Linked DNA regions of Homo sapiens: all the other regions are reported to be linked to region 1. The links are microRNA targets in miRTarBase. Many come from high-throughput screens and were not tested one by one. Region 1 holds a microRNA gene; each other region holds the end of a gene's coding sequence.
Evidence for each region. Region 1 holds the annotated microRNA hsa-miR-21-5p (UAGCUUAUCAGACUGAUGUUGA, at 1,948-1,969, opposite strand). A microRNA usually pairs through its seed, bases 2 to 8, with sites in the 3' UTR of a target mRNA and lowers its output. Matches are read on the target gene's strand: a 7mer-m8 pairs with bases 2 to 8, a 7mer-A1 pairs with bases 2 to 7 and ends in A, and an 8mer does both.

Region 2: miRTarBase lists ATF7IP as a target of hsa-miR-21-5p. Seed matches in the 3' UTR shown: 8mer at 3,734-3,741.
Region 3: the mRNA of RPRD2 is a reported target of hsa-miR-21-5p. Seed matches in the 3' UTR shown: 7mer-A1 at 2,896-2,902.
Region 4: miRTarBase lists WDR7 as a target of hsa-miR-21-5p. The part of its 3' UTR that is shown has no 7-base or 8-base seed match.
Region 5: miRTarBase lists FIGN as a target of hsa-miR-21-5p. Seed matches in the 3' UTR shown: 7mer-A1 at 991-997.
Region 6: miRTarBase lists SOCS4 as a target of hsa-miR-21-5p. The part of its 3' UTR that is shown has no 7-base or 8-base seed match.
Region 7: miRTarBase lists ASRGL1 as a target of hsa-miR-21-5p. The part of its 3' UTR that is shown has no 7-base or 8-base seed match.

What each region holds. Positions count from the first base shown.
Region 1 is chr17:59,839,161-59,843,241 of GRCh38, reverse strand. It overlaps MIR21 (microRNA 21), which reads right to left and starts at 1,976; the gene lies at 1,905-1,976. It overlaps VMP1 (vacuole membrane protein 1), which reads right to left. Exons shown (of 12, transcript NM_030938.5): 12 at 987-3,474. The coding sequence ends at 3,331. RefSeq lists a silencer at 721-915 and enhancers at 2,201-2,930, 3,654-4,081.
Region 2 is chr12:14,497,495-14,501,494 of GRCh38, forward strand. It overlaps ATF7IP (activating transcription factor 7 interacting protein), which reads left to right. Exons shown (of 15, transcript NM_018179.5): 15 at 160-4,000. The coding sequence ends at 579. Among named protein-coding and RNA genes, the nearest start is that of PLBD1-AS2, 31 kb to the right of the region's middle.
Region 3 is chr1:150,472,480-150,476,560 of GRCh38, forward strand. It overlaps RPRD2 (regulation of nuclear pre-mRNA domain containing 2), which reads left to right. Exons shown (of 11, transcript NM_015203.5): 11 at 1-4,081. The coding sequence ends at 855. Among named protein-coding and RNA genes, the nearest start is that of TARS2, 13 kb to the right of the region's middle. RefSeq lists an enhancer at 5-517.
Region 4 is chr18:57,026,558-57,030,638 of GRCh38, reverse strand. WDR7 (WD repeat domain 7) reads right to left here. Exons shown (of 28, transcript NM_015285.3): 28 at 847-3,635. The coding sequence ends at 3,432. Among named protein-coding and RNA genes, the nearest start is that of WDR7-OT1, 11 kb to the left of the region's middle.
Region 5 is chr2:163,605,927-163,610,007 of GRCh38, reverse strand. FIGN (fidgetin, microtubule severing factor) reads left to right here. Exons shown (of 3, transcript NM_018086.4): 3 at 1-4,081. The coding sequence ends at 456. Among named protein-coding and RNA genes, the nearest start is that of FIGN, 130 kb to the left of the region's middle.
Region 6 is chr14:55,043,864-55,047,944 of GRCh38, reverse strand. It overlaps SOCS4 (suppressor of cytokine signaling 4), which reads right to left. Exons shown (of 3, transcript NM_199421.2): 3 at 1-4,081. The coding sequence ends at 3,581. Among named protein-coding and RNA genes, the nearest start is that of MAPK1IP1L, 5.7 kb to the left of the region's middle.
Region 7 is chr11:62,391,908-62,395,988 of GRCh38, reverse strand. ASRGL1 (asparaginase and isoaspartyl peptidase 1) reads right to left here. Exons shown (of 7, transcript NM_001083926.2): 7 at 2,577-3,910. The coding sequence ends at 3,705. Among named protein-coding and RNA genes, the nearest start is that of SCGB1A1, 25 kb to the left of the region's middle. RefSeq lists enhancers at 889-938, 1,049-1,118.

The sequences.
Region 1 (4,081 bases):
ACTGGGGGCAGAGGCTGAGCGTGTTTGTGTAGGAGCACTCAATACTGCATATGTTTCAATAATTAACTAGTGTATTTAAGAAACTTCATTCTACGTGGGCATGGTGGCTCACGTCTGTGAACCCAGAACTTTGGGAGACCGAGGCAGGTGGATCACCTCAGGTCAGGAGTTCGAGACCAGCCTGACCAACATGGCCAAACCCCGTCTCTACTAAAAATACAAAAACTAGCCTGGTGTGGTGGTGGGCGCCTGGAATCCCAACTACTCCAGAGGCTGAGGCAGGACAATCGCTTGAACCTGGGAGGCGGAAGTGGCAGTGAGCCGAGATTGTACCATTGCACTCTAGCCTGGGCGACGGAGCAAGACTCTGTCTCAAAAAAAAAAAAAAAAAAAAAAAAAGTAACTTCATTCTAGCATTCGTAGGGAATGGAGAGGTGGCCACTATCCAAATGAAACTAAAAACCTTTTTCTTCCCAGACTCATACTCCAGATTATGCACACAGAGAATACAGAAAACTATGGGAAAACTGGACATTGCACATTTTCATATGACATCATCTGTTATTTTTTTTGTCTTGCTCTGTCACCCAGGCTGGAGTGCAGTGGCGCCATCTCGGCTCACTGCAAACTCTGCTTCCTGCGTTCAAGGGATTCTCCTGCCTCAGCCTCCTGAATAGCTGGGATTACAGGCGTGCACCACCACGCCCGGCTAATTTTTTATATTTTTAGTAGAGATGGGGTTTCGCCATGTTGGCCAGGCTGGTCTCAAACTCCTGACCTCAGGTGATCTGCCCGCCTTGGCCTCCCAAAGTGCTGGGATTACAGGTGTGAGCCACCGCGCCCGGCCGACATTGTCTGTTTTAAGGGAGGTATTCCTCAGCTCTTCGGTGATAAACTGCTGATGTATTGCACTGCCTGACAGTCACCAAGTTGGAACATGATAAATACTGCAGATGTGTAAGGCACAAAATGAGACTTATACAAAGTAGAGATGGAATCGCAAGAATTCCCAGGCCCTCTTTTTATTTACAGTGATACCAAACCATCCACTTGCAAATTCTTTGGTCTCCCATCAGCTGGAATTAAGTAGGTACTGTGTATCTTTGAGATCATGTATTTGTCTCCACTTTGGTGGATACAAGAAAGGAAGGCACGAACAGCTGAAAAAGAAGGGTATCACACCGCTCCAGCTGGAATCCAGCAGGAACCTCTGAGCATGCCACAGCTGAACACTTAAAAGAGGAAAGAAGGACAGCTGCTCTTCATTTATTTTGAAAGCAAATTCATTTGAAAGTGCATAAATGGTCATCATAAGTCAAACGTATCAATTAGACCTTCAACCTAGGAAACAAAATTTTTTTTTTCTATTTAATAATACACCACACTGAAATTATTTGCCAATGAATCCCAAAGATTTGGTACAAATAGTACAATTCGTATTTGCTTTCCTCTTTCCTTTCTTCAGACAAACACCAAATAAAATGCAGGTGAAAGAGATGAACCACGACTAGAGGCTGACTTAGAAATTTATGCTGACTCGATCTAAAAAAAATTATGTTGGTTAATGTTAATCTATCTAAAATAGAGCATTTTGGGAATGCTTTTCAAAGAAGGTCAAGTAACAGTCATACAGCTAGAAAAGTCCCTGAAAAAAAGAATTGTTAAGAAGTATAATAACCTTTTCAAAACCCACAATGCAGCTTAGTTTTCCTTTATTTATTTGTGGTCATGAAGACTATCCCCATTTCTCCATAAAATCCTCCCTCCATACTGCTGCATTATGGCACAAAAGACTCTAAGTGCCACCAGACAGAAGGACCAGAGTTTCTGATTATAAACAATGATGCTGGGTAATGTTTAAATGAGAACATTGGATATGGATGGTCAGATGAAAGATACCAAAATGTCAGACAGCCCATCGACTGGTGTTGCCATGAGATTCAACAGTCAACATCAGTCTGATAAGCTACCCGACAAGGTGGTACAGCCATGGAGATGTCACGATGGTAGGCAAAACAAGCAGACAGTCAGGCAGGATTTGATAAAAAAACAAAAACAAAAACAAACCAAAAAAACCCAGGCATTTCTGGCCTGTTAAGATCGAACCCCAATTCTATTCTATTCTGACATAATGCTCATAATGCTCCTAAAGGAAAAAAGTAAAATTGTTTATTTTCCTCCCAAGCAAAACAAAATGAACAAGTTCAATCAAAAACATCCCAATGGAAAAAAATCACACTAAGAATAAAACACTTACAGAACGGCAAGAAAACTGGGTTAACATATAAATTTGTGTCTGTTGAAACCAGAGTACATGCTAGAAAACATTAACACAGATACGACAGAGTGTGGTTTTTTTTTAGAAATGGGTAATTTCTCTCTCCAGTATCCTTTCACTTGTATGAGATATTTCTCCTCTCCTGTTTTCACAAACCAAGAAATCCCCAGGTAGGCCAATCCCAGAGGTGCCATTTAGCAGTATGCAGCAGCCCAGTTTCAGCATAACAAAACATGCCTTGGTAGTGGCTCTCTCATGCAAATAAAAGAAAGCTTAAGAAATTCTTGTTGTAGGTGGATTAGGCAAGGCTGCCATTCAGCTGGTATAAGCTAAAAGTAAAAAATCAAAACGCTCAAGAAAACGGACACAATTTTGGAATGATTAAAGATGTCTTTATAAAGTTTTTTTCAAGACTTCATTCTAAATACACAGAATAAAAAATGGTGTCAGCTCACTTGTAAGACACCAACCAGATTTTCCTTATACTGTCTCAAAATTTAAAGATCAATTTCCCCAGAGGGTGTGCAATGCATCATAAAATGGCCCTTTTTTGAGGATGGGAGAGGAAGGGTTGGGCAGGATGGAATATTAAATTGTAACATGATAAACATGCAAGACTGTTATCCAATCTAGATAATTTATATACATTTTGATGACTTAGGAAAACAAAGCAATCATTTGTGACAAGCCTAAAAAGCTTGACATATTTAACATACTTAGGAACTTTTTTTGTGCGGTGGGAATTCTCTAATTGTATCATGTGGGCCTTTTGAAAGTAACAAACAGAAGGCCAGTCTGTTGCAAGTTTGCTGCTGAACATCACATTCCACCCTAAGAAAACACAAGGTGGATTGCATCGAGGGTGGATACCTTACCTTAGCACAGAAGGAAAAAGTATGTCAGTGCAAAGTATGGACTAAACTGCTTTCAGGAAAAAAGTTGTAAAAATTGATACAGGTTGGAAAAGGGAATTTTCCTTCCCGGCTTGGAGTCCTCCCAATTTAAGGCAGAACCCATCCACTCCAATTTCTGCAGTTTAAAACTTTCTCTACTTATTTAGTTTTCTCCTCTGAGTTCAACCGCTGCTGGATTCGTTTGGCATAACTTTGTGCCATGGAGTTAATGATAGATAGGATGAAGTAACACACCATGACAACGACCAACTTTTCAAACATCCAGGACAACCAGTTTTCTCCCTGTAGAAATAAATGCAGAACAATGCAATGAAAAAGGCTTCATTAGTTCAGTAGTAAAAAGAGGATCATCTATAATGCTTGAAGTGTGTAACTTACAAAACCTAAAGAATTAAAAATGAAAAGTAAGCAACCCCAACTACTCTGAAATCTCCATTACTCTCCTTTTTACACCCAACTATCAAGATTTCACTTTGTTGGATGTAAAATCAGTGTTGAATCACATAGTTTAGAATGGGATGAGTGTGAGGTTAGCTCTTCTACTAGGACCTAAGAATAAACTCTTTGATTAAACTCAACTCTGAAGTCGCCATGCAGATACTCATGAGTATTGTCAAGACAGTTAAATATTTTTGTTCCAGTATTAGGAGCTGTTTTTAAAACACACAAATGTATCTGTTTCTGATGTCATGTTTGGTCAACTGAGGGCAGCAAAGGTCCATAAGAAGAGTGCAAGGCCATTAAAAAAAACAGTGCTCTGGCCGGGCGCGGTGGCTCACATCTGTAATCCCAGCACTTTGGGAGGCCAAGGCGGGCGGATCATCTGAGGTCAGTTTGAGACCAGCCTGGCTAACACGGTGAAACCCTGTTTCTATTAAAATACAAAAAA
Region 2 (4,000 bases), not on the chromosome of region 1:
CAAATAGAACTTGCCAAATTTGATATGGTATTTGGTATTTCCTAGAATTCTTGATATAAAATGATACTTCTACGTATGTTCTCTAAGGTGTTTTAATTCTAACATTCTAAAATAGTTCTTTTTGCAATCATCATTAATCAGTGTGACCTGTTTCTTCAGGAGCCCCCACGCCCCGTGCACCCAGCACCCTTACCAGAAGCTCCACAACCACAGCGTCTGCCCCCAGAAGCTGCCAGCACATCTCTGCCTCAGAAGCCACACTTGAAGTTAGCACGCGTTCAGAGTCAAAATGGCATAGTACTGTCATGGAGTGTCCTGGAGGTGGATCGAAGCTGTGCCACTGTTGATAGCTACCATCTCTATGCTTACCATGAGGAACCCAGTGCCACTGTGCCCTCACAATGGAAAAAGATTGGGGAAGTCAAGGCACTTCCCTTGCCCATGGCATGTACTCTCACCCAGTTTGTATCTGGTAGCAAATACTACTTTGCAGTACGAGCCAAGGATATTTATGGACGTTTTGGGCCTTTCTGTGATCCTCAGTCAACAGATGTGATCTCTTCTACCCAGAGCAGTTAAACCTTGGAGCCTTTATATTTTCCTCTTTTAAAATTTCCACCTTTTGGTCTTGTTTTTAATCTTGTGCATGATACCCCATGTAAAATCCACCTTGTGCAAGATTTCTTGGACAGATGTGTGTATACACTACATTTGTTTATAACCAGAAGCAAAATAAACTCAGCCCACAAAGCTAGAATCTTTTCCTGGACAGTTTAGGCTTTGGGGTTTGGAAATGTAAATGTGTACCTTGCTTTAGTTTTGAGGCTGGGGAATATGTGTGGGTGTTTATGTGTGTTTTTCCTTATGTAGGTGTTATTGCATTGGAGTCTCCCATTTTCATTCTCAAATTTACCTCTTAAAGTACGAAGTAAGTAGATCAAAGGATTTGAGATGTGTAACTGGCATGATTCTGCTTTTGAAGGATCTATAGTATCATTTTAGTTAAGTGGGTCAAACAGAATCAAAACAAAACCCAAAGAAATAAATAAAAAACAAAATGGCTAAATAGTTTAAAATAGGTTAATTCGAACACAGGAAAGGATCTATTTGTTGTTTCTTTTGTCTGGTCTCCTGAGTTGTTAATTAGGTGAAAAAAGATCTGCAATGGCCCCCTCCCTTTCCTAATCTGGCTTTTACATTTATTTTGTGCCTTAAAGATTAACTACAAAGATAAACATGGCCAAAAATAAATAAATAAATATGGCCATATGTCCGTTGTTGCTTAGTCTTCCCTTGCAGCCTTTTACCCTTGATTTCTCCTTCATCTCTACCAAATATAGCACAACTCCTCAAGTAATTTTTTTTTTTTAAGATGGAGTTTTGCTCTTGTTGCCCAGGCTAGAGTGCGGTGGCACAATCTTGGCTCACTGCAACCTCTGCCTCCTGGGTTCAAGCAATTCTTCTGTCTCAGCCCCAGAGTAGCTGGGATTACAGGCACCTGTCACCATGCCCGGCTAATTTTTGTATTTTTAGTAGAGATGGGGTTTCACCATGTTGGCCAGGCTGGTCTTGAACTCCTGACCTCAGGTGATCCACCCGCCTCGGCCTCCCAGAGTGCTGCGATTACAGTTGTGAGCCACTGTATCCAGCCTACTCAAGTGATTTTTAAACCAAGGTGTGTGTATGTACATGGATGTGTATGTACACACACACACAGGTGCATGCATAGTCTCATCTTAGCCGGGCATGGTGGCGACAATCACATTTAACTCCAAAAATTTGACGTGCTATTTTCTTCTAAAACTATAGATGCTTTTATTTTTGGTCACTATTTAACTTTGTGTAAAGTGGACCAAGAGAAAACCATATTGTGGAAGACAGTTTTTCACACATTTTAGTATCCGTGTTGCACACTGTGTTAGAGATTATGAAAACCATTCTAGTTCAGTTTATCACCCAAAGCTATCACCCAACACTAACTCCTTAGTATTCTTTCAAAGGAAGCAAATAGTAAGATTACAATATAGAATGAGCTAAAATATCAAGGGGAAAGCTTCATTTCCTCTTTATTCTCTTTATCGTCCTTCCCATTTTAACCTTTTAACTTTGTTTTGATGGTGCCAAGTTGAGTCTGATGTACCCATTGTTAGCTTTGGATAGAATTTAAAGTATATCCCAGAATTAGCTGGGCATGTTGGTGCATGCCTGTAATCCCAGCTACTCAGGAGGCAAGGCTGGAGAATCGCTTGAACCCGGGAGGCGGAGGTTGCAGTGAGCTGAGATTGCGCCATTGCACTCCATCCTGGGAGACAAGAGCGAAACTCTGCCTCAAAAAAAAAAGAATTTAAAGTATATCCTTTGAGGTCATTTTATGTAACAATTAGATATAACCTCCTGTGTATCTCTCTGTTCCTCTTCAAAGTTATTAAAATTCAGCTTAGGTCATGGATTTTTAATATGAGGGCCAGCTGTACTGGTGTCAGGTAGGTGTTTTGGGTGTAGATAATTTAGGACTGGAGGGCTGAGTTAAGTTTTAGGAGGAGAATGTGGTTGAGAATATTTTGAAAGGAATTTATGGAGTTTGTGAAATAACTTCGAAGTCCTCTTCCTTTACAATATTTGAATTCATATTTGTACCTTCTCAAAATAGTGATTCATTTTTCCTAGAATTACAGGAGGGAGCTCTTTTACTAATGTTGTTTTGTTTGCAACTTTGATGGCTTATAATAGGAAGTATTCTAGTTGTAAAGAAAACTCTTTAGAGACTTTTGACTGGTCAGTATACTGAGGTGTGAGATTTGATTCATGATGAAGAAAGCCTATAGATTGCCAAAAAATTAATTCTCCAAACCACCTTTCACTCTCAGAAAATGAGACCACAAAGGAGTATGCTATAAATCAAATTTGCCAACCAATTATGTAGATATTACTCATTCTAGGACTAATGATGATGGTAAAGAAGTTGCCAGTGTTATGGCAATGAAAATTTCAGAAAGGAGGAGTTGATGATCTTCTAGATGTATATGAACACCTGTCTATATCTGCATGTATATGTTTTGACCTGCAGTGGTTGCAATGTTGATATGTGTTCAAGATTATTCCTGTCTACAAAACTGAAGGCCCATGTTCAAATTGTTCTTTATTGGGTGTTTTTATGGTCACGTGGTAACAATTTTCTTACCTAACCTACAAAAGGTTCTCTTGATGAACATTTTTATTTATATTTACTAATCTTTTTTAAAAAAAGCTTTCATAGCATTATATAATCAGATGAAGAAAGCCCAGTAGAATAAAAAAAAAATTCATTAGCCTAGCCTATATTATGTTTTCTGTCAAAGGAAAACAAATTCTCAAATAGGAATTCTAAAAATATTTACTAAAGTAAAATAACTACTTAAAATGTTTTATTCCAGTTGGAAGGAAGGTACAGGGAGAAATCGCAATTATTTAGGGGAGAAGTATATTTATTATAAGATGGTGTCCTCAAATTAGCCTACCATGGCACGTAGGGGCAGCAGCTATATTAGATTTACTAGAGGTGCTAAGTTAGAACACTAGGCTTTTATTGAGGCAGGTTTTAATATTGATAGATGCTTTTTGTTTGGTTTGTTTCTTCTGGGAGAGAATGGAGGACTTAAGTAGAAGTAGCTACTGATAACAGACTTTCTAGTAGCAGTTTCCACTCCACGGTTACCTTTTTAGTTTCATAGTATCTTTTCACAAAGTATTACAAATAAGCTAGATTCTCCCAGTTTGGGAATGCAAGTTTGCTACATTTTTAGCCTGGCAATATTTGTGTAGGTATTGCCTTATTGGAAATTCTGGAAACCTGATACTGCAACCTGCAATGTAGGATGTTTGTATGGCATTTAAAGGTAATGGTGATGTTTATTATTCTATACTTTGCATTCTGTGAGAGTAATTTTCACTCTGTCTTAAGTGTGAGTAAGCCTCTTCTAAAAATCTTGTTCTTGCCAAGAAATTTATAAATCACATACGA
Region 3 (4,081 bases), not on the chromosome of region 1:
GTCGGCAGCTTTCGTTCCAACAGTTTCAACTCAACATTTGAGCATCATCTTCCCCCATCCCCCTTGGAACATGGGACACCCTTCCAGAGAGAGCCAGTGGGGCCATCATCTGCCCCACCTGTCCCTCCTAAGGATCATGGTGGTATCTTCTCTCGAGATGCACCCACTCATCTACCCTCTGTGGATCTTTCGAACCCCTTCACAAAGGAGGCAGCCCTGGCCCATGCTGCCCCACCCCCTCCTCCTGGAGAGCACAGTGGAATTCCTTTCCCTACCCCACCTCCTCCTCCCCCTCCTGGGGAACATAGCAGCAGTGGTGGGAGTGGTGTCCCCTTTTCTACTCCACCCCCTCCTCCACCCCCTGTTGACCACTCTGGAGTTGTACCCTTCCCAGCCCCACCACTGGCAGAGCACGGAGTGGCAGGGGCTGTGGCAGTATTTCCCAAGGACCATAGTTCCCTCCTTCAAGGGACCCTGGCTGAGCATTTTGGGGTACTCCCAGGACCCAGGGACCACGGGGGCCCCACCCAACGGGACCTCAACGGCCCTGGCCTTAGCCGTGTACGAGAGAGCCTCACCCTACCCTCCCATTCTCTGGAACACCTGGGCCCACCCCATGGAGGAGGAGGTGGGGGAGGCAGCAACAGCAGCAGTGGCCCCCCCTTGGGTCCCTCACACAGAGACACCATCAGCCGGAGTGGTATAATCTTACGGAGTCCCCGGCCAGACTTTCGGCCTAGGGAACCTTTTCTCAGCAGAGACCCATTTCACAGTTTAAAGAGACCCAGGCCACCTTTTGCTAGGGGCCCTCCGTTCTTTGCACCAAAACGCCCATTCTTCCCTCCCAGGTACTGATGGAAACCAAGGGAAAGGCATTTTGAACAGTCTAGAGAACATTGGAAGTAGGAGTTTGGTTTATTGTTGTTGTTTTTATTTGTTTTCTCTTTCTCGATTTTTTTTTTATTATAACAAAGGGCCTCTCTTCCAAAGTAAGAAATCACATACGCTTACGTTTTACTATTCAATTCAATCCTCCCTCCCATTGCACTTATCTACCTTCCCCAAGTTGTTTGTATTAAAAAAAAAAAAAAAAAAAAAAAGTAAAGAAACACAACCAAAGCCATTTCATTTGGCTGGGGGGTTGGGGAGTGGGGAGGAAAACAATCTTTATTTTACCCCATCTATTGAAGAGTATTATTACATTTGAAATAAAACTTCCATCAGTACAGATAACCACATGTGCAATGTTGGGATGTTATTTTGGGCTTGGCTTATCGAGTAGTCAATGGAAGGATTCCCGTCCCCTCTCTCGGCAGCTTAGTAACTGCTGTAGCCAGCTCGGCTCCCTTCCCTGTGTATCTGTGTCCTGCTAACAGCCAAGAGATGTTGCAAGGGAGGAAATGTGAGAGACCTTGAACCTGTCAGGTTTATTTGTTTTGTTTTTAAAGGCATGTTGAAGTTTAGTTCTTTACCCTTCTCCTAAAATCTTTTTTTAATCAGCCTCAAGGTTAAAATAAGGAGTGACTACAGTATGTAAAATAAGGAAAGGAAGCATTAATGGTGTGATGTGACCTGCCTGTTTTTTTGTAAACAAGAGAATAGGAAATGTTTTCAAGGTAGTTTCACATGTCTTGCACCAAGCTCATGCCTCTTGCTTTTCCTTTTTGACTTTATCTCCCTCAGTTTTTCTTCTGCTGTGGCCAGAAAGACAGTCACTACAGTTGACTATTGATACAAAGGTGCAACAGAAATATTATCCCTGCATTTTTAAATATAAGAAGTAGACATTAATTTTACCATGGTGCCTCCCTAATGTAAGTGATATTTATTGGTGGTTTTCAACAAAGGTTAACTATTAAAGAAAGAAATATTTGTCTTTATCTTCCTTTTCCCCTTGCCTCAGTCGTGTTATTCACCCCTATTCTTGATATTTTAAAGGAGGAGATTCAGTAGCATTTTCCTTTATATTATACACATGTGTCTATCCCATTTCAAGGCTCAAGTCTTACCCCCACCTCTCGCTCCCAATAGGAAATAAAGACCATTTCTGCCCTTAGTTGTTTTACATGCAAGATAAGTGCTTTCCTTCTCCCTGGACTGAAAGACTTGTTTGTATTTCTACATCTAGTACTTGGGAAATAGACAATCACTGTACTTTGAGTGTTTATATCTTTATATCTAGGGACACTGAAAAGTAAATGTTGCTTTACTACAATTTTTTTTTAATTTAGTGTCTTACCCCAAGGCATACTCAACTGATAATCTCCAGCTAGATGAGTAAAACAGTATGTGTTTAGTTTTCCAGAGAATTCTGGCAAGTTTCATATTTTCTTCCAAGTTAGTATAGAACTAACTATAGGAAGTATGGGGTTGCTTTTTCCTCCAGTAGAATATTAAAGATGGGGGAGGGTGGGCAATGTAGTGACAGAAAATGATTCTCTCAGAATGAACTTTTCAGAGAAAGAGCAGCATAAACCAGGTGCACATCATGATTTGGGAGTTTTTGCGTAATTTATTCTGTTATTTATTTGGGCTCGCCATGTGTTCTGGGGTTAGGATGCTGCAGGTCATTCATCTTCTTAATGCCTGTCTGGTCTTAAGCCAACTGTTCTTTCTTTCCTCGACCCTCTCTGCCCTGTAGCTCTCCCCACAAAAATGCATGATACCATGACCTTACGTGTGGGATGGGGTATGTAGTGTAGCAAAGAAAAGAAAGTATAGTTATATTGAGTCCTAAGACATTTGTTAGGGAAAAGCATAAGAGAAAATGGGGTGGGAGGTGGGGAAATGATATTTGACTTTCAAAATTGAAATAGGTTTTTTTTTTGCAGAAATTAAATGGGATGTTTTTCATTCTAGAATAAAAGAATGTGAATTCTCTTTGCTGCTCTTGTTTAAGCTAAAAGTAGTGTTTACTTGATAAGGCTCTCTGACCATTTAATTTTTATCAGAAAATGTGGGGATGTCAGGAAAGTGGCTTCCTGAACGTTGGGGCGGGATAATTGTCCTCAAAAGTATGATGGTTAATACATGAAAGGAAGACTTTGTTGGACAGTTTCGAAGGTGGGCTTTTAAGGAGTTGGGTTTTTGTGGGGTACTTTTTTGTTTTTTAAGCCACAAAATCCTCAATATGTTTGTTTTAGGATGGAAGTGAGGATTTGTATGAGACTGTCAGCTATTAATTTTAAGGAAATCTTAAAATTTACATTTACATCAGTAAATGAAGATGACAGTGTGTATATATGTGATAAATAGTGAAACAGAAAAGACAGTTCTGGTATTCATAACGTGAAAGAAAGGGGTTTTATTCTTTCTGTGTCTGTGATTTAAAACTCCGTGACCATGCTCTGACTTTTGTATTTCAACCTGAGTTTAAACAAATAAACAAGATATTTTTTAAAGAAAGCATAACATAGTGTGTCTTAGCAAGGACATGATTCATATGGAAGCAGAATGTGAGAAGTTGTAAGGTCCTTGGTACTCACTGTAAAATCACAGACAGAGAATTGGTAGGGGTTGTGAATACACTAGTACCACTTAAAGTTCAGTGATACAGTTCAGAAATAGGGTCCTTAAGTATTTTGAAAGAGTTTACTCTTCAGTCAGCTTAGATGAGAGCTCTCTCCCTGCTCCCCTCTACCCTCTCAAAAGTTGAGAGTAAATAGAATTTGGTTTGATTCCAGGGAGGGGAAAATAAGCAGAGAATAGGACTTTTATACTTTCCAATACCAGGAATAAAATGTTTGTGATATATATGGGTCCAGCAAACCTATCGAGATAATGTGAATACGATAAACTTCCTAATGGCAGGATATTCACTCTCAATCCTGAAGTTACCGGTTCCTGCAGAATTGAGCTTCAGCTGTTACTGTTTTGAAGCCGCTGTAAATTACTGCTTTCCCCAGTTCCCCCACTATTTTTTTTAAGTGGGCGGGGGCGCCTGTTAAGATCTAAAATAGATATGTTGGATTGATATTCTCACGTGTTCGGTGTGGAAAACAAAACAAGTACATGCTTTAGAAGCAACAACAATGAAATCCTTTTGAAATGTGTGTTAATATCGTTTAATAAAATAACTAGT
Region 4 (4,081 bases), not on the chromosome of region 1:
ATTTTCTTCAACACTGGGCTCTGTCAGTCAGCCGAAGGGGTGAAAGGTGAAAGTTCACCCAGCACTGCTTGGCTTTACCTTCCTATTAACGTCACGCCTTTCCACATTTGATCAGTTTATGTGATCGCTGATCATATAGAACTGTTACTGCCCCTATTTTCCCTATAAGAATACATTTAAGTCATGAGATGTTAAAACATTTCCTGGGGCCCACAGTGGGCATTTAATAGGGCCCAAGATGCCTCAGACCACTCCTGGAATGTTCACCGAATTCTTACAGAAAATTATACTGTTACACGATGATTGACTCAAATCAAGCTTTTGTGTTCTTATCTGAAATAATTAAGAGACAAGAAGTACATTCACTACTTACACATAACCCTCTATGAGCAGTAAGGACCTATTTTATTATTCTTGATTTTTCTGAAAACCAATTATACCCTTTACCTGAGGGATTCAAATTCGACTCCAAACTGAGCGTGAAATGCAATGAACTTGATGATCTCAGCCTAGCTCCCGAGAGGCAGCCAACCCATGCCATCCAATCTGACAAGATATGATTTGGTGCCATTACCAGTCTATTTGGGAGCATGTAGAGTAGAGATAAAGCAACAGGCATGCAACGCCTTTCCCAAACCACAGAGAGTGCCAGTGAGTTTCTGGAGGGAGAGCTTACCTCTGCACTTCTGCTCTACTGTCCTCTGGGAATAAGTTGCCTTTCCCAAGCCAGCTCTCCAGGGAAATGAATGATTAGAAGCAGCAGGGCTAGCGGAGCATACGGATTTCAACTGAGGATGTTTAAGATGAGTGAACACTGGAAAAGGTAATATTGTGAGAAAAACAGTCTTCAATACAATTGTTTTATTTAACACACATATGTACACAGGAACATTCAGCACACATAGAGTCTATTAAGTGGAATCATTAAGAAATGTCTGGAGAGGCAGACATTTTAATTCACTCGCTGTACACAGGGAGTTCAATCATCACATTTTCATACAGGTGTCACGTCATGTCATCTTTTGCTTGTAAATTACCAATGAAGCCACATATGTCTCTACATATACAAGGACAGGTCCAAATACAGTGCCAGTGAAATCAATAAAACATTAAAGGTGTACGCTGGGATGACAATGCAGAGTTTACCTCAGTGCTGAGAAATCTAAGCTGGGATGAAGTTTGGGACTGTGGCTATTAAAATAGCCAAGGAGAGATTTATGTTAACAAGAATGCAGATATTAGTTTAGTAGTTAGAGATGACCGTCTAATCATCAAACATCGTCCACCCCAGGGTTTTGCAGCCATAGCTTTCTACTGGCCTTGGTTGCCTGTGCAGACGGAATACGTGAAAGGCCTACCCACGCTTGTGGCCCAGGGCTATTGCTCCTCTGGGCCCCCTGGCTTTGTTCTCAACCTTCGTGGCGGGGGGAGCCATCCGTGTGTTTGCGGCAGGCTGCCTACCACTCTCACACCTCTTTCCTGACACACAGAACATTTTTGTTAAAGAAAATGCTAAGGTATACATTTACCTCATCATTCCAAATAGAGATGTAGTCTACAATAAATTAATTTCCATTTAAGTTCATAAAGTAAACATATGTTGGGTATAGAGAAGACTCTGGACCCACTGGAAAACAAAGTGAGCCTTTTACCTTACATTTCTCTAGCTATGCCAAACACAACAGCACGTTCACCAAACAAATAAAGTCTAAACTGTATAGGTCTTTGTTTCTTCCTTGGAAACTACATATATAATCTTTATAAATACAATGTACATGCATGTGCCTAAATTCACTTTTGAAAGAATACCCAACTCTAAAACCAAGGAACAGTATAGATTTGCCGTCAATGGAAATAACATCATATCATTATGAAAGAGATGATCTAATGGTCTTAATTTCTTAATATGCTCTTTAAAAATCTGTTTCAGTGAAATAACCAATGTTTGTTCCTAGACTTTGATCCTACTTTTTTGTATATCAGATAAACTCTGACAACCTAAACTTTTAAGACTAAATTCTCCCATTATCATTTTGGTTCCTTTGTAAACTTCACATATTTTCTCTGAATTTAACAAATAATTTTCTATTTTTGCATGTAATAAATGATTTTGCCCAACTAACCAACCAATCAACAATTAGGCAACCAAACAACCCCTCACAAGTATATACAGATCAAGGTTTGTTAGAAACAATTCATACAAAATATAATTCTATTTTTTTCATTATTATGAGCTAGAACCAGCACAATCTGACATAAGAAGAAAGTGGTCTAGTTAAAGCTTACTTAGAAGCATAATGAACACCCTCATTGCAATGTTTGCTCAAATAAATCGAGAGCCCACATATTTTTATATACACTCCTGAACATTTGTGCCATAGTTATTACTTTTCCAGAATACTTGTTTAAAAGAAATACCTTATTAGCTTTCCTTTAGTTGATCAGTAGTAGTTTGAAGGCTGAATTATAATAATTTCATAACTGACATATGCCACACATATGGGAACTACAGGATTGCAAGTTTTCCGGGGGAAAGGGGTAAGCTCTTTCTTCAACAGGATCTGTAGCAGTAGATAGGAGAGTCTTCATTTTCGGTACACGCTATGCTTCTGAACTTGGCTCTTTATCACAAAAGTCCCTTCAAGAGATTAGTTACAGTGACTGGATAATTACATTAACTAGATCATAGGGAGTGATTATTTTTATTTTAAACTACTAAATAGACTATCATTTAAGCAAGAGATGAGCACTTCAGAAGGCTAAGTGTCTGGAAAACTATTTTCTACAAGGAAAATATTTTTGTGTACATAATTAATCATGAATCTCAAATTGGTTAGCTGTTGATAAAGAAGGTGGTAGCTAAACCCTAGGAAATTGGATTGAGTAATTTCCTAGCAATCACCAGAAGAAAAGAACATGTAAACACAGAATCTTTTTGGTAAACAATATTTTAGGTAATTCAAAGGGCAATAATTTCAATCGTGAGGACTGCCACATGACCTCAACACCCAGTGTCAGAACGGCCAGATTCAAGCAGCACTTCAGAGGTGCGGTTGAGATGGCTAAAAATGCTGATCTGGGCTGGGAGTGCAATCACAGTGTTTATTGATTTTTGTGCTTCTGTTGCACCAAGCAACAAGAGCGTTCCCAGGAACCACTGGCTTTCCCCTGCCATCTCTGGCAGGGAAAAACTACCTGGTGACAGGATGGCCACATCCTGCAGAGCATGTGTGCGTGCCTCTGAATCGACAGATGGCACGAGCGGGTTCTGCCCCTGAGAAGCATGCACAAGTGACAAGACCCGGCCGTGCCACTGGATGGCACTGGGGTGGGCAGGCCCCTGGGAACAATCTGGTGTGAGGAAGGACAGAGCAACATCGGCTTGGATAATTTAGAGAACTAAAACGCAGTCACGGCGGCAGGCAGCAGCATTAGACCATGAAGCGGTGCTCCTTCCCGTCATGGGCCATGAGGATGACGTTGCGGTTGGAAGTCCAGATGAGCCGGGCCAGCTTGAGGGCATTGTGGGAGCCGGGGGACGCGGGCTGCACAGGGGGCACCTGGTAGGTTTTAATGCAGCGCAGCTGAGGTGCCGAGTTCAGCATGCCGATGCTTCCCAGCAGTGACGTGTTCATCTGGAGGGACAGGAGAGCACATGTGTCACTTGAACAGCCCTCTCCCTTTCCCTATCACAGAGACTGGGTCGATCTCTCCTGGCTACTTTCCCCTCCATCATGGTTATTCTCCTTCACCTAAGCTTGTTCTTAACCTCTCAAAAGTTCCTTTCAGTGTGCTTGGAATTGTTCCGATGCTGTTATGGTAAATGCAGAAATCTAGAGGAATTTTATAGGGGTAGAACCTGACAAAAGGAGAGTCCATGGATCTTTAGGAAGAGGGCTAAATTATACCTCTTAATAAAATGGTTCATTTAGACAACACAGATATTTGGAAATTGTGGATATTTAAAACTGAAGACTTTCATGTTCTTTACCACAATGCTAACTGCACTCACTCCCTGAAGGATGAGTCAGCGAAGACAAGTTTTGGGATTTGTAATTAGTTCAAGAAAAGGAAGCAAAGT
Region 5 (4,081 bases), not on the chromosome of region 1:
TTTCTGATGCAACTGGACACTGTACTAACTTCGGCTGAGGACCAAATCGTAGTAATTTGTGCCACCAGTAAACCAGAAGAAATAGATGAATCCCTTCGGAGGTACTTCATGAAACGACTTTTAATCCCACTTCCTGACAGCACAGCGAGGCACCAGATAATAGTACAACTGCTCTCACAGCACAATTACTGTCTCAATGACAAGGAGTTTGCACTGCTCGTCCAGCGCACAGAAGGCTTTTCTGGACTAGATGTGGCTCATTTGTGTCAGGAAGCAGTGGTGGGCCCCCTCCATGCCATGCCAGCCACAGACCTTTCAGCCATTATGCCCAGCCAGTTGAGGCCCGTTACATATCAAGACTTTGAAAATGCTTTCTGCAAGATTCAGCCTAGCATATCTCAAAAGGAGCTTGATATGTATGTTGAATGGAACAAAATGTTTGGTTGCAGTCAGTGATAACTTCTTTAGAAAAAAAAAATGTAATGAATGTTGGCACACACACATAAAACCTGCTACATAGGGAATAGAGCCCCTTTCCAGTAGAGTTTAAATTGCAAAGGGTACTGGGGAAGATGACGATTAAGTTGCATCTTTAGAGTCAGGGTAGATTTGGAGGAAAAGTGCATCAAATGAGAGCTTCTGATTTGAAAGCCCCAGATGACAGAAAGCATATGTGGATGCTCAGTTCTGTTCAAGCTAGACAACACTCACCAAGGAGCAAGGTGCAAGTGTGTTGATTTCAGAAGGACATGAACCTCGTGTGTTGATTCCATTCTGCTGTTCTCGAGATTTAGTTGCTGTCAAGTGCCTGGAGTGGTGCTTTATTTTTTGTTTGCCTCACAATTACATTGGTGGCATGTGCTAATATAAAGAGCTTTAACTTCAAACATTATTGGACTAAAGAGATGAACAGTTGTGTTATGACAGAAAACCAGATTTTTGCCATTTTAAGAGCAACAGTATTCCTCAATCCTGTCTGTTCTGCAGTATTAAGCTAAGAACAGGTAAAACAGGGTAACGGTAATCTGGACCTTAATTTCTGCAGTTCATTTCTTTTAATGTTCTTGTCTGCAAAAACTCAGGAAAGTGATTGTGATTTGTACAGTACCTCAAAGGAATGTGTTGAAAGCACTATGTACTGCTGAGAGTAATAGGATAGGCTTCAATGTTACTTTATATTAAAATGTATGTTTACCTCAACAATTGGAAAATAGCAAGGAAAATTACTTTGAATGTATCCAGAAAAATACTGAAGTGTGATACAACTGAATATTTACAGTTTAAAGTAGAAATGGAAGGATTTTTTTAAGTTCTTTTACTAATTATGGGGAATTAACCAGAGCAGAATAATTCTTTATGTCAATAACTGCAAGAGTTCTTAGTACATTGCTCCTTGATAATTAAGTGAAAATGTTCTTAAAAGGTACACTGGTTAATTGAAAGCTACTTATTCAGTTTGTGTTAGTGTCTAGACCTGTCAGCCACAAGACCTGTTTAGGACCCTGAAAGTCACAGTACCTAAAAACTATGACTGCCTTTTTATTGCATAGGTGGTAGTGGTGGTGATGGTGGTGGTAGTTTGCAAGTTATCTCTTAAAACTGCTGGGAATGGTGTCATTCTATTCACTAATCTAGCTTATAGACTTGCCGTGCTGTTTGATAGAATGCAGAGGATAGCAACCAAAACAAATACACAAATAAATAAAAACAAAAACCAACCAACAAACCAACTTACATACACATATATATATCCACAAAGAACCTCTCCATCTCCTCCCCTTCTTTTTGACTCCACTCTTGTCAGTGCAATTTTGCTTCTCATTTTGAAATCTGGGCTGTAGTGCTCCTGCTTTATTTCTACCTCAGTTTTGTTACATTTCTCTTGGAAAGTAAAGTAGAAAATTGGAAGTGGACACACACACTGCAATGTAGCTTGCCAAACATGTTACTTTGTTTTCTTCCATCTTTCACCGTAAATCTAGTTTCCAAAGACATCAGCATTTGTGCTTACTTCCACCTCAGTCTACCAGCCCCACCCCTACCCATGGCATAAGTGGCATTTTTCTTAATTTCCTATTTTTCTCCTGCTCTCTGTCAAGTTGTTCTTTGTATCCTTTAATGCTTTATGTGCAACCTTTCATTGATAGTGGGCTGATGTTTGGCAATGCTTCTGAACTGTCACAGAGCAGGCTGTAGCTTTCCACAGCCACTGCCCATGCATAAGCAGAACAGCCTGGCCTTTTGAATGTATTTTCCTGGGTTTTTTCCCCTTTTCTTTTTTTAGTTTAGAGATGCAGTAACAAAACTGTTGCAAAGCACTGGCATTTTATGTATTCAATAAATAAGTGATGTACATTTTTAAAAAAATTTAAATAAATGCAATGAGAAGCCCCAAGAAAGGCCTTTCTGTTTTTTTTTTCTTACAAAAATTTTTACCGATCTTATCCACAATATCCAATTCTCTGAAACACTTAACATAGAGAAAGCTCATGAGGGATTTCTTATCTCTGAAATTTTATGATGCTTGATCTTTACTCCCCTTTTTTTATTTTTTATGTTGCTAAAAACTGAGCAATTGAACCAGAATTTAATTTACTGTGACATTCTGTCAATTAAAGCTGTGCTTAAATATAAATATTCCATATTAAAAAGCAGTGCCTTTCATTAAGGATACAAAAAATAATACTTAAATACGCCCTCTGCTTTTCGCAAGTGAATAAATGCTACAATCGTGTTCTGGGTCTACCCTGTGCATCCCTTGTAAGGAAATTCTAATATCCACATTAACTTGTAGGTTCATATTGATCTCACTGACAAGTTTACTTTTGCACAGTGCTGACCTATTTTCTGACTTTTAGACATTATATTTCATTTCCGCCAACATGCTGTGTTCACTTGAAAGCGTCTGGCAAGTTTTGACAAACCCAGTCTTATTTAGACAACTTTGGAAAATCCAATATTGACCCACATTTTTTTGTGGCTAGTAAGATTTAATGCCAAATATATGACTGCACTATTGTGTTTTACACTCATTTATAAAACTGAAAATAAATTGAAGTCATACATCTTGGCTTTTAGCTTTAAGTGACTTAAAAATTAGAACTCTGAGTGACTTAAAAATTAATTTGAGATGCAAGTGGTCAAAAATCCATGTATTTAGACAGAAGCTGAAGTCGTATGTGATTTTCATTTAGCCTCACAAAATCCAAGATTTGATCTCTTAGGAAATTGGGCATGTTGAAGAAATGAAGATCTGTTGGAGGAGATATGGCTGACCTTTGAGTAGATAGTGCTCTCCTGTGATTCTTTGATTCTGCATGGCAGCATTATGAGCTCTTCTATAAACTAGCTTAATAATGAGCTCTATTCTGACCATCTATTCTGGAACTTGGAGTGGGGGTGGGGTACCACATCCTCAGAAGTGAATGTGTACAGTCGGTGATAGTACAACTGAGTAATGGGGCTTCATACCCTTGGCCTCTTTTTGACTGCTAAGAATTTGGAGAAGGCTATTAATGAAGGTAAGGTAATGAGCCAGTCCAAATCCCTCACTGTCTGGCTAAGAGATTGAGCCATTCCACTTTACAGCCCCTAATTCCCTTCTTCCCAACTGCAGCAACATTTCCAACAGGGACAAAAAGGAAGTGAAGGAAACCACTTCAGTATTGGGATCAATAGAAATTCAAGAGGTAGTTCATAATGACCTTATATGTGACACAAATGGAAATACTCTACACTTCTGGCATGCTTCTCTCCCAAATATTTAGAACATTAGTGACAATATGAAAAACTTTGCTGACTGAGCTGATCAATGGAATGTGAAGGCAGTATACTTTAAGGCTATTTACTTTCACACAGAATGTTTATCTATTAGTCAGTTTGTATTCTACTCAAATGCAGATAGACGGGTATAATGTTTTCTTGTGCATTTGAAACCTATCAAGGAGAAAATAAACCATTCCACTAAAATACATAGGCCAAACACCATCTGGGAAAGTGATAAAAGCTATCCAGAGGCTATGCTATGTAAAATAGCAAGGTCAATTTACATGGGTTGCATAGTACTTGGCTATGCAGTTTT
Region 6 (4,081 bases), not on the chromosome of region 1:
CTGTCTCAAAAAAAAAGAGATCTCAAGGTTTTTGTTTCATAGGAAGGAAGCTCTCTATTGCGTGGATCTATAAAATGATCCAAACTTCAGAGACAGGAAGCTGATAACTGGATTTATCTTCTTAATGGCTTTGGCTCATGAATAAATGATAATGGTTTATGTGTTTTTCTTATAAAAAGAAATGGAATTTGTATACCGATAGGAGTCCTACTTGCCACATTTGTTCTACTTATTAAGGGATTTCTAATTACTGAGACATTCTTTATATTATTTATAATAAGAAGTCAAAACTTTAACTGAAAGCCATTCTTTGACCACAGTTGGCCATTAGCTGAAATTCAGGAAATAGCACAGGTTTGATCACCAAATCAATAAATCTAGCCACAGGCTGACTAAAAGCTTCCTTTAATCTTCTTCCTATTAGGTCTTCCTTTAAATTAAACCATTCCCTTCATGAATTATTTAAGTGAATGGCATGGTTATAGAAAGATCACATATAACTCTATACAAAAATGCTAAAGGAACCTTAAAAAGTCCATTCAGCATACTTCAGGAATTATACTATGAATCAAGATGCTGTAGGCTTAGAAAAAAATGGGAGTGGGAGTATGTCCTGTAAAGCTTCAGAGAAAAATAGAAAAGTCAAGTTTATTTCCTGATTAGCCCAGGATGATTCCCAAAGCGCAGTTAAGTGTCTGGTCCAGACTAGCTATTAGCGATTAAGTAGTTTCTTTTCACTGTCAAGGCTTTTCCCTGAGGTAATGCCTAAATTCCTAATTTTAATATTTGATCTTATTTCTCTTAGCTCCATCCTCTCTCACCAATAAGCTCTCCACATTTCCACCATGCTAAATGCTTTCTCAACTCTGGAATTTACACTGTTCAAATCTTCCCTTTGTTCAACAGTTATAAAATTTTAGACAAATTTATACATTCCCACATTGTTCCTCTCAAAATTTACTCATTTATATAGTGCAATCAATATATTGTTTACATTTTATATAGGTTAGTTTCTGAATACTGTATGTTCTTCCAAATGTATCCTTACAAAGACACAGAGGAAGGGGGTAACCTTTCTGAATTCCAATTCCTTAATGTTTTAAAAAAAATTATTACTCTTTTCTTTTCCCTTAAACAATTCCCTTCTCAAGTCTTTATGTATCTACTTTCCAAACTTCTTTTCACTGTAGCAAATACCAAAGGAAAAATAAAAATCATTTCAGAGTCAATGAATCTCCTCCCTGCTCTCATTTATTAGATCAACTACTTCAAGGCTACATATGTGGCAGTACTTTTTAAGTGTTAACAGCTGTTAATACCTTGAAGTTGAAAAAATAAAAAAGCCAGAGAAAACATATCACAAGCAATCAGTTTGAATTATATGAAAAGGTACTTAGATCTTGACTTTCATATAAATACTAATTTTAACACTATAAAAGACAACATAACTATATATCATTTTTCTTTATAAAACTACCCCTTAACAGAATATTTGTAAGCTAGTCATCCCTTAGGTTTTTCTGTACTGATAAAAAGTTATTTTTAAAAGAAAAATATTTAAAATAATTGTTTCACAGAAACAGAAAATCTTATCAAATTCTGATAAAAAACTATAATCATGGGTACTCTTACCACACTATTTTCTTTCACCAAAGATGGATATTTAGGAAGTGGTATATTGGTTAATAAGATAAGCTTCTCAGTGATCTACAAAAGCGCCACAATAAAGATGAGGTAGTATGAGACTTTTCTAACCTTGTAAAAGGTAAATATCGTCTTTAGAAGAGATATTTATCCTGACATTGGTGTTATGATATCCGATATCCTGAGCCTCATCACTGCTAAGAGGTGCCATTTTTGTAGCTACATCTCATTGAGACTAAGACAATCTTGAGATCACTGAGGAAAAAAAAAATGCTAAAAGATAACGGTAATAGAGATTTTCCTTAATTTTGTAATAATTACTAAAAAATTATTTTAAAGCTATTATGGAAAAATGCCATTTTCATGTTAACAGAACTGCAAGATAGGGAAATGCTACTCACATAAAAGCAACAATAATGAAGAAATATTTGTTCTAACTTGGAAGTTTATGAGTCAAATTTCTTTCAATCTAGGTAGAAGCAGTTTCCTAATATAGCTAAACTAGCATCAAGAAATCAGTTACGATATTAAAAATGTCAATGTGTACAAAGGGTTAGACAGCTCACCAGAAGAAAATTGTCTATCTACATTTATTATTCATTGATTCCTTAAAAAAAGAAGATAGGATACCACTCCATTTATTTTTACTAGTTACTTTGGGCTAAAGATGTTTCTAAAAACGTTGCCCTGTTTCTGGGATAGTAAATTTAAAATATCACCCCTTTTGTCCAGTACTGTTCTGTATGGTGTAAGTCATGTAGCTGTCAAAAGGCTTTCTTTTTTTGAAGCCACATTACAGACTAAGTTAATTCTGAAGATAGGGATAATTATTTGGATCTTGTAGATCAAAAACAGTATTAAGCTTCCTGAATACTGAGCTCCATGTTTATTTCTGGAATCTTTATTCAAATTCAACTTAAAATAATGAAAAACTACTTAGGTACTCTTTGGTTACCAGTGGAAATTTGTGGCTGCTAATACATTGTGGAATTTCCCCAAAGTAACAGCTCAGAGTTTCTATAAAAGGGCTAAGTAGAAGCAACAGTTCATAAGCTAATACAGAAAAACCCCACAATTACTTTAGCACTTTAGTAACTACTAGCTACTAATAGTGTTATCATTATTTTCAAAGCTTCCAATGAGAAAGGAACAAGATTTATGTTTTGAAGATGGTTTAGCTCTTGCAGGTTGAGAGAAAGACCTATTCAGGAATGACAAATGATCCGGCCACATTGTAGAAGAGTAAGTGCACCTCCAGAATGATATGTTTCCATTTGATTCTCATTGACCAGATTAATCAAATTTAGTAATCCTGCTTTAGAGTTAATATTTAAAATAAAAATACACCAAGTTTGACTTGGTTTTGTTACTTTTAACATCCCTATTAGTAAGTTACAAAAGTCAATAACATTAGTATGAATGGTGAATTACAACATTCAGCTTTACTGAAGAATATCAAACTCAATGAAAAGGGGGACGGGGAACTATATTTTATATATAATACTACTAATGGCATAGATTAACAAAATATTTTACATGTAGGAAAGGACATAAGATTACTTTTAAAGAATAGTATGAAATACACAATATTCAAATGTGTTTGCAATGCCTACCAAATTTCAAATGTGCCTGGATCATGTATAAATTAAGGAAAAAGGATCATGTATAAATTAAGGAAAGAAAAAATGTAAGTATACAACCTACACGGTAAAAACAAAAACCAAACACCTGGTTAAAAATATCTATTTAAGCTCGAGTGTATAACCTTAAACAATTTGTGTATCACTAGAAAAATGGATTTATTAGTAAAATTTAGGGCAGAGATTTTATTTTGGACACCACTGCCTTTGTAGAAAAATCCAAAGTGGCATAAAAAGAAAAATAAAATATTAAAAGAAAAAATATATATTATCATTCCCATGTTCCCATCCTGTTACTAGCATTGCTGTTCTGGTGCATCAATCCTGAGTACTCTAACTTTTGATTTATAATGATATTCCTTCAGATATAATTTCATAGAAGAAGGAATTGGAAGGGCATCGATGCCATCATAAGTTGTACAGTTACAAATAACTGTTCTGCATATATGCTGCAGGGAAAAAGGGAAAGTCCGAATTAAGGGAGTGGATAGAAGTGGTTCAAAGAACATACAGGCGCTTGGGTCCTTATAATGTTCTAGGAGCCCAGTAATGTCAGGAGAATGGAAGACACAGGGGTCATGTGCATCAAAGCTAAAGTTGTGATTCCACTGTTCAATTCTAGCATGAAGAGAACGACTATAGCGTCTAAAACTAACAGAGAATAAATAGTCTTCCTGTGCTGAGTCTCGAAGTAAAAAGGTACCCTCTGGTTTTCCTTCCAGTAGTGCTTCGGCTGCGTATTTATCCATCACTCCCCAGTAACATGGGTTGTTATTGATCTGAAGGAGGTCTGGTAC
Region 7 (4,081 bases), not on the chromosome of region 1:
CAGCCTGTCCAACATGATGAAACCCTGTCTCTACTAAAAGTACAAAAAAATTAGGCAGGCATGGTGGCGGGCGCCTGTAATCCCAGCTACTCGGGAGGCTGAGGCAGGAGAATTGCTTGAATCTGGGAGGTGGAGGTTGCAGTGAGCTGAGATCGTGCCACTGCACTCCAGCCTGGGTGACAGAGCAAGACTCTATCTCAAAAAAAAAAAAAAAAAAAAAAAAAAAAAAGAAACAGCTACAAAATCCAAATGCAGTGATGGTTTTGTGCAAAGATGAAGGCTGATGGGAGGACTTCAGAGGAGCAGGTGGGGGGCGGGAAGAACGAGTGTCCCTTCCCAGCCTTCCCCACACACCATCACCTCTGACAACAGGACACTGAAGGGGACTAACGTGTGCCCCACTCCTTCCTTTGGTCTCAGAGTTTACAATCCCTCAAGCTAGAGAGGAAGAAGTCTAGGAATATTATTTGAGAAAAATGTGTATTATGCAACAGCTACGAGATCAAGGCCCTTCCTTACCCAGGACTCTTCTCTGCAGCCCAGCAGTGGGGCTGAGTCCTGACTGCAGCAACTCCTGCTTGGGGACACTTGGCCTTGGCTCAGGGCCCGTCTTGTGCTCCTTATTATCCCACCATTTTGGTGGGTGAGCCACATGACGATGTATCTGTCTTCCTGGCTGGAAGGAGCAAGTGGGGGCGGGGCCGGGCTGCCAGAGCTTGTTCACCGTGGGATCTGGCATCCGGCATCTGGCAGCGCCCAGGGCAGAGCGAGCTTCCACTGTTGATCTGGGTGGGTTCTTCGGGCCATTTGCTAGCGTTTGTGTTTTGGACAATTCTGCTCTAAAATAAATTGTAGTATTTGGACGAAAATGAAGGTCAGGAAGAGGAATGTTCTTTTGGTTCCAAATTTTCTAAATAGACTGCTCTGATCCAGATAGAGTACCTTCCCTTTGGGCGGCTGAAGCCATGGATAGTTTATAGTTTGCTGCCCTCTTGTGGCACAGAAGTGATAAAAAGATTGTCTTCCCCTTTCAGATGCTGTCAGGCTCATTTCTCTGTTTGACAGTGAGCCATGGACAAGCTGTGGGGCAAAAGCAAGAACTGTACGTGGTCTCCATTTACAGAACTCCCAGGCTGGTGGAGGTGGCTTTTGGTACAACTCAGGTCTGAGGGCAAAAATACACACTTTGGCTTTGCACAAAGGGGCTGACGACCCCATACGTACCCTAGCACCTGGGCTGCCCAGCTAAAGAGGTCAAGTGGCCACAAGCTGAGCCTACGGTAATCTTTAATAACTAGAGTAAATTTCCTTGTGAACTGGAGAATTGGTAAGACAAGCTCAAAACCAGATCTTCCAACTGGCCTCCCTATCCCCCAGCTCCCTCCTTCCTTTTTTCTATCTCCTTAGCGATTGTTGTCTTCTCCAAAGGGTCTCCCCTTTCCAAACCCCAACATGATTCTGTTTTGCCTCCTGTTATGGACTGAATTCTGTCCTCTCCCAAATTCACATGCTGAAGCCCTAACCCCCAGTACCTCAGCATGTGAGTGTATTTGGAGACAGGGCCTTTGAAGAGGTGATTAAGGTTAAATGAGGTCATTAGGGTGGACCTTAATCTAATATTATAATTTACATATTATATATAATATATATTATAAATTATAAATTATATATCATATATTTTTATATAATATATAATATATACAATATATGATATATAATATATAGTATATAATATATAACAAATTATATATAATACATAAAATATATAATATTATATATCATATATTATATATAATAGTATATATATTTATATGATATATAATATATATGTATTATATAAATGTTATATATTTTATTATATATAATATATATGTAAATTATAATATATATTATATATTGTATAAATTATAATATATAATAAATATACCATATTAGATATATTGTAACTTATATATTATATAATTTATATATTATAATATATAAATTATATCTAATATGGTGTCCTCATAAGAAGAGGGGATTAGGACATATAGAGACAGATGGCAGGGCTGTGCACGTACAGAGGAAAGACCATGTGAGGACACAGTGAGAAGATGGCCAGCTATTACACAAGCCATGGAGAGAGGCCTCGGGAGACACCAACGTGGCCGACACCTTGATCTTGGACTTTTAGCCTCCAGAGCTGAGAAAATATTAATAAATTTCTGTTGGTTAAGTCACTTAGTCTGTGGAATCGTGTTGTGGCAATCTTCAACTAATACACCTCCTAATAAAATACTTGTTTCTAAAGGGGGAGTTGTTGCATGTTGAGGTTTTTACTGTGCACCTCTGTCTGGGGTGAATGCTGGCAAACTGCAGGAAGACTGCGCCATAAACCCTATCATGGTTTGGCTTCTTCCTTGACCCACTCAGAAAAAGTTCAGTTCTTCTGAAAAACTCACGAGTACTCCACAAGGTGGCACATATCACCCTCCACACCATCCTCATCTCGAGGTCTCTGTAGTACACCTGAGACCAAGGGGGGAGCTCGTGTACATTCTGGTCTTTGTCAACAGTGACTCCCAACCACACCCTTATTCTTTCAAAATATATTTTATTAGCGGCACATGGAATGTCAAGTTAAGCAAATTCTTTCCAGAGAGAAGGTGAGCCTGACAGACTAAAACGTTGAGCACGGATGATACAGCAGAAATAACATTTCCAGTGTAATGAGAGATAAAGAGGAATACTGCCCACCGAGGAAATGACTTTCTTCACCATGCTGACCACACTGCACAGCGCCCGATCCGGCTGGTGAGGATGGGGAGGTGGGAAGAATCTCAAAGCACTGGACAGGGTGAGGACTCAGGAAGTCACGGGGTCAGCCCTACAGCATCAGCTCCTCTCTGTTGTTGGAGAGGCCCTGAGCCCCATTACTCACTATACGAGGACCAGAGTGTCTTTGGCAGGTGGAGGCTGGCTCACGGGAGAACACCAAGTGAGGGGGCTCCTCTGTGAACCCAAGAAACTTCAAGGAACCCCACAGCGTCTCCCTTATGACCTCCCATCTCCAGATTAGGAAGCTATGGATTCCCAGAGGGTCCTTTGGAAGTATCTAGAAATGTCCAGGTAAGTCAGAGAAGGGCTGAACTTTCTTAGAAAAATCACTTTAGTCTCTCATACATGAAGAACATTTTCCTTAAAGGATTCTGGTTCTTTTCCCTGATGTTCTTGTGCAACGTTCTGAGGGTCACCTGGGCTTCGCCCACCACTGCTTCTACTGCTGCTGTGTCACTTTCAAACAGCTCCACCTCCACCGGCCCCTCCCTTCCCACCTTCCAGCCCACAGTGTCTGCAGGCTGTGGGTCTCCCACATCTGTCATGTCAGGATCATGCTGCTGCTTTCTTTCTTTTTTCCCTTTTCTTTTTTTTTTTTTTTTTGATACAGGGCCTGGCTCTGTTGCCCAGGCTGGAGTGCAGTGGAGTAATCATGGCTCACCTCAGCTTTGACCTCCTGGGCTCAAGTAATCCTCCTAATACGGGCATTTCTCTCATCGCTTCAGAACCCGCCCCACAACCAAACATTCAGATGCTTATTAAGGCAACAAAACAAGTGACAGACGGGACAATTTTTCCAATTCTAGATCTAATTGATTAGGCTATGTCTCATGAGGAGACTGTACTTGACCTCTAAGCTAGCATCTGGAATACAATCTTCCAGCGGCTTAGGGAAGGTCGGTGATAGTAGTATCGTCAGGATCAATTCCGAAGTGCAGCTTGCCGTCCTTGGCGGCTGCCCAGGGCATGGAGGTGGAGGTCCACTTTGCCACCCAGTCTCCTGTTTTGCTAACCACGATGAGGCCACCTAAACCTTTAACCCTTGACTTCATATAACCCAACGATAGGTCCGCAGCCTCTTCTACCGTCTTTCCTGAAAACAAGGAAGGGTTGAGAAACAACACACATTACTGAAAGGAATCTCATGGGAAAATCACTTGCCATTTGAAATGCCAAAGTGAGCTAGCAAGGATTTTTGGTAAATGAACGCCTGAATGCTTAAAAGGAGGGTCCTCACCTCCTTGCCCTGAGACAGCGCCCTAGC